2 separate regions of the Homo sapiens genome follow, and region 1 is linked to region 2. A link means that fine-mapping ties the variant in region 2 to the expression of a gene that starts in the linked region. Tissue or cell type: whole blood. Region 2 holds a variant in brackets; the other region holds the start of a gene. All regions are shown on one strand. Distances are from middle to middle.

Region 1 (4,000 bases), 170 kb before region 2:
ATACAAACCTCTCTTGTTGAAATTCTGATCTGCAGTAAGTACATTTTACAATAGGATGTGCAATCCGACATTCCTGTAATAAGACAATACATTAGTCAGTATCTTTCTGAAAGTCCCAAATCTCACTTTTCTGGTAGAAAACTGTTTACCCAACCTAGTGAAAGTCTAAAACATTTATAAAACCTGGCCCCAACGTAAAGAACTGGATGCTTTATCATATAAGTGGCCAATCACAATATAATTCCTTAGGGAAGGCACAGGTGTCTTTGTCTTTAGTAGACGTGGGGGTATATTACAGACAAATTAAGAAAGCTGTCAGGGCCTATTTCAAGGATTGGTTAAATGTGAAACTACTTATTATTTTGCACCGTTGCTCACAGACAGCATCCAGGCTTTAATGGGATGGGAGGAGCTCCAAATCAGAGCATTCTGTTCCCAAACCAGTCGCTTCGCTTTCCTGGACAGGGAAGAAGGATGCCATCAGCTTTGCGGCTTCGGGTTCCTAGCAAGAAAGTGCAAAAACCGTCCCCTGCCTCCTGGTGGAAGAAGAGGACAGACCAGGCAGAAAACCGAGATGAAAACATCTCCACCCCTGGGTCTCTGCGGCATAGACAGGTGGCTGCCTCACTCAACCCCACTCCTGAGACCCCCAGACGCTGACGGGGCCCGGCACCCTCCTGGGCCGCCTGGAAAAGGGCACGATTCTGCCTCCCTTTCAGGGTCCGTTCCCAGCTAATGTTCAAGCCCCCAGAAAAAGGGGTCCCCGAGTGGGGAGGCGAGGGCTCCAGACTCCCAAACCCCTGAGGCGCCGGCGAAGAGGGGCTGCAGTGCAGCGGCTACCCGGCCCCCTCCGGCTACGGCCGAGGACACCCATCCCGCCCGCCTCCCGGAGCCCACGGACCTTGCAGAGCTGCTGGCCCTGGGAGAGCTCCTCGAAAGGATAACGCTGGGTACACTTGGTGCAGGCGTACAGGGCCGAGGCCGCCATCCTGCTCCTCAGTCTCCTCCTCCGCCGCCGCCCGCTCCGAGGCGGGGCCCTACGGAGAACCCGAGAGCCGCCGCCGCCCGGGCCGCGGGCTCCTCCTCCTCCCCCTCCCCCTGCCTCGCGCCCACCAGGGCCTCGCCGCGAGAGCCCAGGGCCCCGCGGACGACGCCACCGTCTCCCTCCGCCTCCACTTCCGCCCCAGCCCACCCAGTGACGCCGTGCCAGCCGCTCCCGCTTAGGCCCCGATAGCGGCGGAGGGAGACGAAGCGGGTAGGGGGTTGCTGTTTAGCTGTGCGGCCGTGGATCCGCTTCCTTCTCGGCCTCCCTTTCCCATCCCTGATTGGCTGCGAAGGCTATCGCGTCATTCGATGGCTCCTCCCAACTCCCAACTTCCGCGACGCAGGAAGCGCCCACAAAGGGAGGATGTCGCCGGCCAATGACATCCCGGAGCTCTCAGCGCGCGAAATCCGCTTTGAACCTGCCCCGCCCAAAGGTCTGCGGTCGCGGCTATTTCTAACAGCCAGTCCCAGGTTTGGCTGAGAGCGCCCCAATCCAATTGAGCAAATGTTCGCGAAAGGCTCGTTCTCTGCCGCAACTTTTTTTCCCTTGCTTTCTATTGGACTAAATCGTTAAGTCCCTCCTAATCCTATTTGTTATTGGCCAAAAGGTAAATACTTCACCTGGAGAGGCGTCCCCGAGGCAAATTCACGCTCTCTCCGGCGTTTAATCCGAGGGAACTCGTGGAGTGCTTTAACTTCGCCTTCGCTTTTGTTTTATCTCCATTACTCCCTTCAGTTGCCACTGGCGACACCACTACTCGCCCACGCTTCTTACTGGAGGAGGCCCGACCCTCCGTAGAATCCCCGCAGAGCCGGCCTGTAACCCCGGCGTTGTCTGCCCCAGCGGGCCCCGTTACGCGCTACCTTGTGACGTCACCAGGGAAGAGGCGGATTCTCTCCTACTACAGAAAGACGTCTGCTGTTTTGATTGGCTAGGAAAGACGTCCGTTAGGACGTGTTGCCCTTTCTGTGTAAGCTGTGAGCGTAGGCGGCCCTGAGGGGGTGTGTTGCAGGGGTTTCCAAGCCCAGCACCAGCACCCTTGCCCTTTTCCATCAGGGGTTCAGCCTAGGGTCCCCGCTGGTGGGCGGCTCCCGAGTCTTGGAGAAGAGCACGAGAACCTAGACCGCCCCCGAAGTGCGGAGACCCCCTGGGCAGGCTGAAAGATGGCGGCGGCGTCTGTCTCTGCGGCTTCTGGTTCTCACTTGTCGGTAAGAAGCAGTTGGCGCGAGTGGGCCCCACGTCGGCCCTAAGCGCCTCTTTGAGTTTCCTCACGTTTCAGGGCGCTGTCAGTCCAGCTTCTGACGCAATTCTGGAGGTCGGCGGGAATGCCTAGATTGCCCCGCGCTCCCCAAGCTTCCATTCACTGTGGCTGTGTCGAAGCTGCACCCTCTGGCTCCCAGTGAAACTGGGCTGGCCGCCCCTGTTCCCCAGCCCTTATTCACCTTTTGGCGTAGCAACCAACCCCGGTTGCCTAACATTCCCAAGGGCCGGCTGGGATAACTGCCCACTCCCTGGCCTGCAAAAATGTAGCTCTTTTGGTCACGTGGGTTCAGCGGCCCCTCTAGGAAACTCGCCAGATCAGGTGAGGCGCGCCAGTGTGTTTAAGAGACGTTGCAGAATAGTAGTCCGCCGTCTCTCGAGCGCTTACTAGTCGTTGCTTATGCTGTTTCCTATCCCTGCAGTGCCTCCCACTCCCATCCACATTAACTTCGTTGTGTGATGCTCGTAGCCAGAACGCGCGCTTCCTGTCACCTAGAATTACTGGAACTTCAATGTGGAAATGCCCTTTTGGAGAGGCGACAGGGGGAATTGATTTTAAATATTGTTTTCGCCTCATCAAATGTCACCATCCAGTTTAGTTACTGGTATTCACTGGTATTTCTCAAATTGGAGTGTCGAATGCTTAGGTTTTTGAAAACCGCGGCATTGGAAAGCTTTGATAGGAAGTAAATGTTGGAGCTCTTATTTCTCCAGTTAGCAAATGTTCGATGCCTGGTATACTGTTAGGGTCCAAATGAACAGAATAGAAACCCTGCTTTGAAGGAGAAAAACACTGAAGAGAAACTACACGTAATTAGTGATTACTGCGCAGTATAGTTTAGGAAGTGCTACCGTAGTAGAATAATCTAGAGGGGAGTGATTAACAGTGCTTGGGTAGGCTAGAGAAGGTTTCCTAGAAGGGAAGATGGAGCTAGTTGCGTGTCGAAGGAATTGTGATTGCTTGTCCCAAGAGTAGAGAAAGGAGAAAAAGGCAGTGCGGGAATTTTGGAGTATGTGCTAGAACAGTAGGTGCTTTTAGGAAACTTGAGATAGTTCGGAATGAGAAGAAGTAATACGGAGGTAGAGCTGGATGAGGTGAATTGGAAACGTAGGTAAAAACGTGAAAAAAGAAGGATGGTGAGGGAAGGAACTAGAAGAGTATCAGGGTAAAGTTATTTTCTAGGATCTAGGGGGAAAGAGTTGGAAACGCTAAGAAAGCCTGGTCACCTTGGAGAAGTCAGTTTCAGCTTTTGGAGACTTGTTAGAATTTGTAATAATGGGACTAGAAGTATTACAGTGTTTCAGCCGAATGGGAATTAGAAGTTTGCAGAGAGGTCTGGGGAAGTTAAGGAGAAGTAAGGAAAGCAGCAATTTAAGGTTATTCAGGATTAGGTCAGTAAAAGAAAAAAGTAAAAAACTATTGGAAGTGTCAGCAGATGGATGAGATTTTATAGGAGATGTGATTAAACTTGGGAGAAGAGGGCTTTTCACGGCTCTCAAAAGTTAAGCACTTGGAGACCGAACAAGGAATACTCTTACAAATGTTGAATTGAGTCTGGGTGCGTGGCTCATGCCTGTAATACCAGCTACTAGTGAGGCTGAGGCGGGAGGATCACTGAGGCTGAAGTGAGGTATGATAGTGCCACTGCTCTCCAGCCTGGGCGACAGAGCGACCCTGTCTCCATAAAATAAAAT
Region 2 (4,264 bases):
TTTAATTTTAATATTTGCAACTATACTTTAGTGTAGTTATAGTGCCCTCTCTATGAATATACTTTCTGGATTAGAGAAAGGACGCAGAATATTTTTCCATAACAAAGTCATTTGGGTTGAATTGTCAAAATCTAATCCTCATAACACCACTCTCTTTTGATTTTGTAAAGTGAAAAAAGACATCTACTTTAACACACTCAGAGCAGGATTAAGACATCTTTCAAACCTTCTGATCACTCCAAAGATTAACAAAAATGCCTTGCTAACTTTAACCAAAAGACCAGATGTAGAATAATCTTCTATTTTTCCAGCAAGTATTGAAAGGCAGGATTATACAAATGGAGACACACAAATATAAATGGGGGTGCTCTCTCTCTGTATCTCTCTCACTATTCATATATACTTTTTCTTTAGTGCTTTGAAAACTGACATGTTGCTTTTAGGTTAGTATATGAATCAGTAATGAGTAAAAACTACTTTGAAGATTACTTAATGTTATACTCATTCATATTGGAGATAATTTTCCTTAATATTTGTTGCATGTTTTTCAAGAATAAGTGTTAAAAATCAGTTTTAATTTTTAAACATACATAACCTCTGTGCCATTCTGTCTTCACTTCCCATTAGTTTCCAAACAAAGCCCTACACAATCTTTAGTTGATTTCCTTACTGTTTAGTAGAGTAGATGTCCTCTTATGTGATGTGAATAGAAGTGGTAGTTGGTTAGTTAACTTAAAAAAGAAAAATAAAATTGGGTTAAACAGAATTATGTATGTATGTTAAACAGAATTATCTATGTATACATTATATACATACATATATAAATTATATTTTTAAACTTAAAACATAATTTTAAAATTTATTTTTAATGTAAAGTTTATAATGTGCCAGCATTCACAAATCTTTTTGATGTTAGGGCCAAGGCCTTTCTTTTTGATATGGTTTTATTCTCTGAAGTCTTTCTTGCATGAATCACATACATAATGCATTTTCTGATTTCAATTTCTGGTTTCATTAAAATGGAATGGAAACTTAAAGACACAAGGCAATTTGAGTGCAAAATCCTCATACTTAACGATCAATTAGTTGATCAACTGCAATGCTCCTTCCGTTTTTCACATTCTTAATTTGACAGCATTTAAAAATTTTTTATTGTAAAAGATATTAAATACACAACATATAAATAAAGTCTCTTCTGTGATGCTGCCTATGAAGGTGGCAGCCATCTCCTATTCACCATCATAGCCACACTCAGACCCCTTGTGGAGCCCAAGATTGTCATAAAGAGGATCAAGAAGTTCATCATCGGGACAGATCGATATGTCAAAATTAAGTGTAACTGGTGGAAACCCAGAGGTATTAACAACAGGGTATGCAGAGGATTCAAGGGCCAGACTTGATGTCCAACACTGGTTATAGGAGCAACAAGAAGACAAAGCACATGCTGCCCATGGCTTCTGGAAGTTCCTAGTATCCAGTGTCAAGGAGCTGGATGTGCTGCTGATGTGCAACAAATCTTACTGGGCTGAGAATGCTCACAATGTTTTCTCAAAGAAGAACCACACAGCCATCATGGAAAGAGCAGCCTAGCTCATCATCAGAGTCACCAATCCTAATGCCAGGCTGCACAGCAAAGAAAATGAATAGACAGGTTGTGTGCACGTTTTACTTGTGTTTAAAGAAAACCATAAAAACTGCCAAGAAAGGTATGAATAAATTAAGGAATAAGATAACAAATAATGGCATACACAACAACCAGGTTAAGAAACAGAACACTACCAGTACCTTAAAAGCTCTCTTTGTTCCCTAGACGCAACCATTAGGCTGGCTTTTATGAGAATTAGTCTCTTGCTTTTCTTTGCGGTTTTGCCAATCTGTATTATAAACCAAGAAGTATCTGAGACAGGTCTCAATCAATTTAGAGTTTTATTTTGCCAAGGTTAAGGACTATGACCTGTGACACAACCTCAAGAGGTCCTTCCTGACAATATGTGCCAAAGGTGGCTGGGTTGCAGCTTGGTTTTATACATTTTAGGGATACAGAAGTTACAGGCAAAGACATAAATCAATGCATGGAAAGTATACTTGGCTCAGCCTGGAAAAGTGGGATATCTTGAAGCAGTGGGGGAGTTGGGTGGCGGGGGGATTTCCAAGTCATTGGTGCATTCAAAGATTTCCTAATTAGCAATTGGT[C/T]GAAAGAGTTTAGCTCTGCCTAAAGAGTTGAAGTCAGCATAAAGAAATATTGAGTTAAGATAAAAGGAGAGGTTGTGGAAGCCAAGGTTCTTATCATGTAGATAGAGCCTTGAGGTAGCAGGCTTCAGAGAAAATGTCTCTTATCAGGCCTTAAATGGTGTCAGACTCTGCATAAAAGACATAGTAAGGGAAGGAGATTCTCTATAGAATGCACATTTCCCCCACAAGAGACAGCTTTGCAGGGCTATTTCAATATATGTCAAAGAAGTATATTTGGCAGTAAAGTGACTTCCCTCAAGGCCTGCTATTTGTCATGTGATGCTATACCAGAGTCAGGTTGGAATCTGGTATCTTATTGCTATCAAGAGCCTGCTTCGTCAGTCTCAAGATCTCTGTTTTAATGTTAATGCTGGTTAGATGTTTCTAAACTCCAAAGGGAGGAGTATACAGTGAGACATGTCTGACTCCTTCCCATTATGGCCTGAACTTGTTTGTCAGGTTTCTTTGGGATCCCGTTGGCCAAAAAGGGGTCCATTCAGTCGATTGGGGAGCTTCGAATTTTATTTTTGGTTTGCAGTATGTATTCTTAAATAACATCTTGTTTAGTTTGGCCTTTTAAAATATTTTTTAAAAATAGAATCAAGGTGTAGGGTTTTTTGTGTGTGACTTGCTTCTTTCATTCAACATTATGTTGATGTATTTAGCTCATTCCCTTTTCTTGTAGCATTACATTCCATTTTATGACAATACCTCAATTTACCTCTTCTAACATTGATGGACATTTAGATTTTGTTTTAGTTTAATTCCCCCCACAGTAGATACTAAGACAAAGATCTGCATGCAGGGAGTTTATCTGGAAGGTGATACCTGGAAGCACTGTGAAGGCGTAAGGAAGTGAGACCTGGAAAGAATAAGAACCAATAAAGCATTTATTTATAAGCAGATTACCACAATGAGCAACCAGGCTTATTCCCACTGGGAACTCTGAAAGATAGTGTGAAACACACATGAGACTTATCCACTAAAGGAGAAGGGATCTGGGCTATTTATCCACCATCCTAAATTGGTTGAAAGCCCCCTTTGGGACAGAAATTCTCTTCTACTTAAGGCTTGTCCCAAGTATTCTGCTAAAGACGATGCCCTCAGGCAATCGTCAAGAAATATGTAGGAGGCAATCATCTTGACAGCAGCTGTCTAGGATAGATTAAAGCGATATGGATGGAGCCCTTTTGAGATCTGCTACTGCAACCCGTTGCACCCTTCAGATCCACTCAACCCTCACACTATGTTCACTCTATGTTGTCACTGATTCTTCAAATTTTTAAGGTACAGGTACCTGAAAAAGAGAAGAATAAAAGGCTTAAATGTAGATGGAGTAAGTACACTCCCTACTGCTGTAGTTGGTCCTGAGGCCATCAGTTGATATTCATCATCTCCCACCTTTACCACCCATGGTAGACTTCCCTTGGTCAGAATATCTCTTGGATGCTTCTCTTGGTAGGTGACCCAGTCCTTTATCTTTGAGGGAATTGAGTTTCTGGTTACCTTGCCCTTTTCAAGACTAGGTAGTTGCAATTGCCCATGTGCTATTATCACTGGGCATGGAATCACCAAGAGGTACCCTGGGGAATTCTGAGTTAGAAAAAGTTGCTGACTTTATACTATAGATGCTTCCTGTCAAAGAGCATGGTAATTATCTATTTGGTCTTTAAAAATGTTCTTTATTAGAATTTGATAATTTTATGCATGTAAGGCTCAATACACACACATATACATGTATATCCACACATATCCTAGATTTTGATGTTACTGTGAATATGATTTTCAAGTTATGCTTTTTAATAGTTGGTGGCATATAAAAACTGCTTTTGTGTGTTGATTTAGTTTCCAGAAAATTGGCTAGATTCTCTGGGGTTTTCTAAATGAATAACCACATATATTTATGATTATCCAATTATGATTGTTTTGTTTCTGTACAATTTTAATGTATTTTTTTTCTTTTTTTGTTTTCTTGTACTGAGTAGGACTTCCACCAGAAGATCAGGTAGGAATGGATGATAGTGGGCATCCT

The links. PIP is the estimated chance that this variant, and not a neighbour inherited with it, causes the effect.
Region 1: CEP57 starts here. The variant in region 2 is fine-mapped to the expression of CEP57 in whole blood (TOPMed, PIP above 0.99).

The regions. Positions count from the first base shown.
Region 1 is chr11:95,788,491-95,792,490 of GRCh38, forward strand. CEP57 (centrosomal protein 57) reads left to right here and starts at 2,008. Exons shown (of 11, transcript NM_014679.5): 1 at 2,008-2,253. The coding sequence starts at 2,209. It overlaps FAM76B (family with sequence similarity 76 member B), which reads right to left and starts at 1,292. Exons shown (of 10, transcript NM_144664.5): 1 at 902-1,292; 2 at 9-73. The coding sequence starts at 988. RefSeq lists a silencer at 900-1,319 and enhancers at 1,820-2,289, 2,253-2,916.
Region 2 is chr11:95,961,978-95,966,241 of GRCh38, forward strand. It overlaps the pseudogene RPL32P25. Among named protein-coding and RNA genes, the nearest start is that of MTMR2, 40 kb to the left of the region's middle. The variant C/T (reference allele first, on the strand shown) is at 2,194.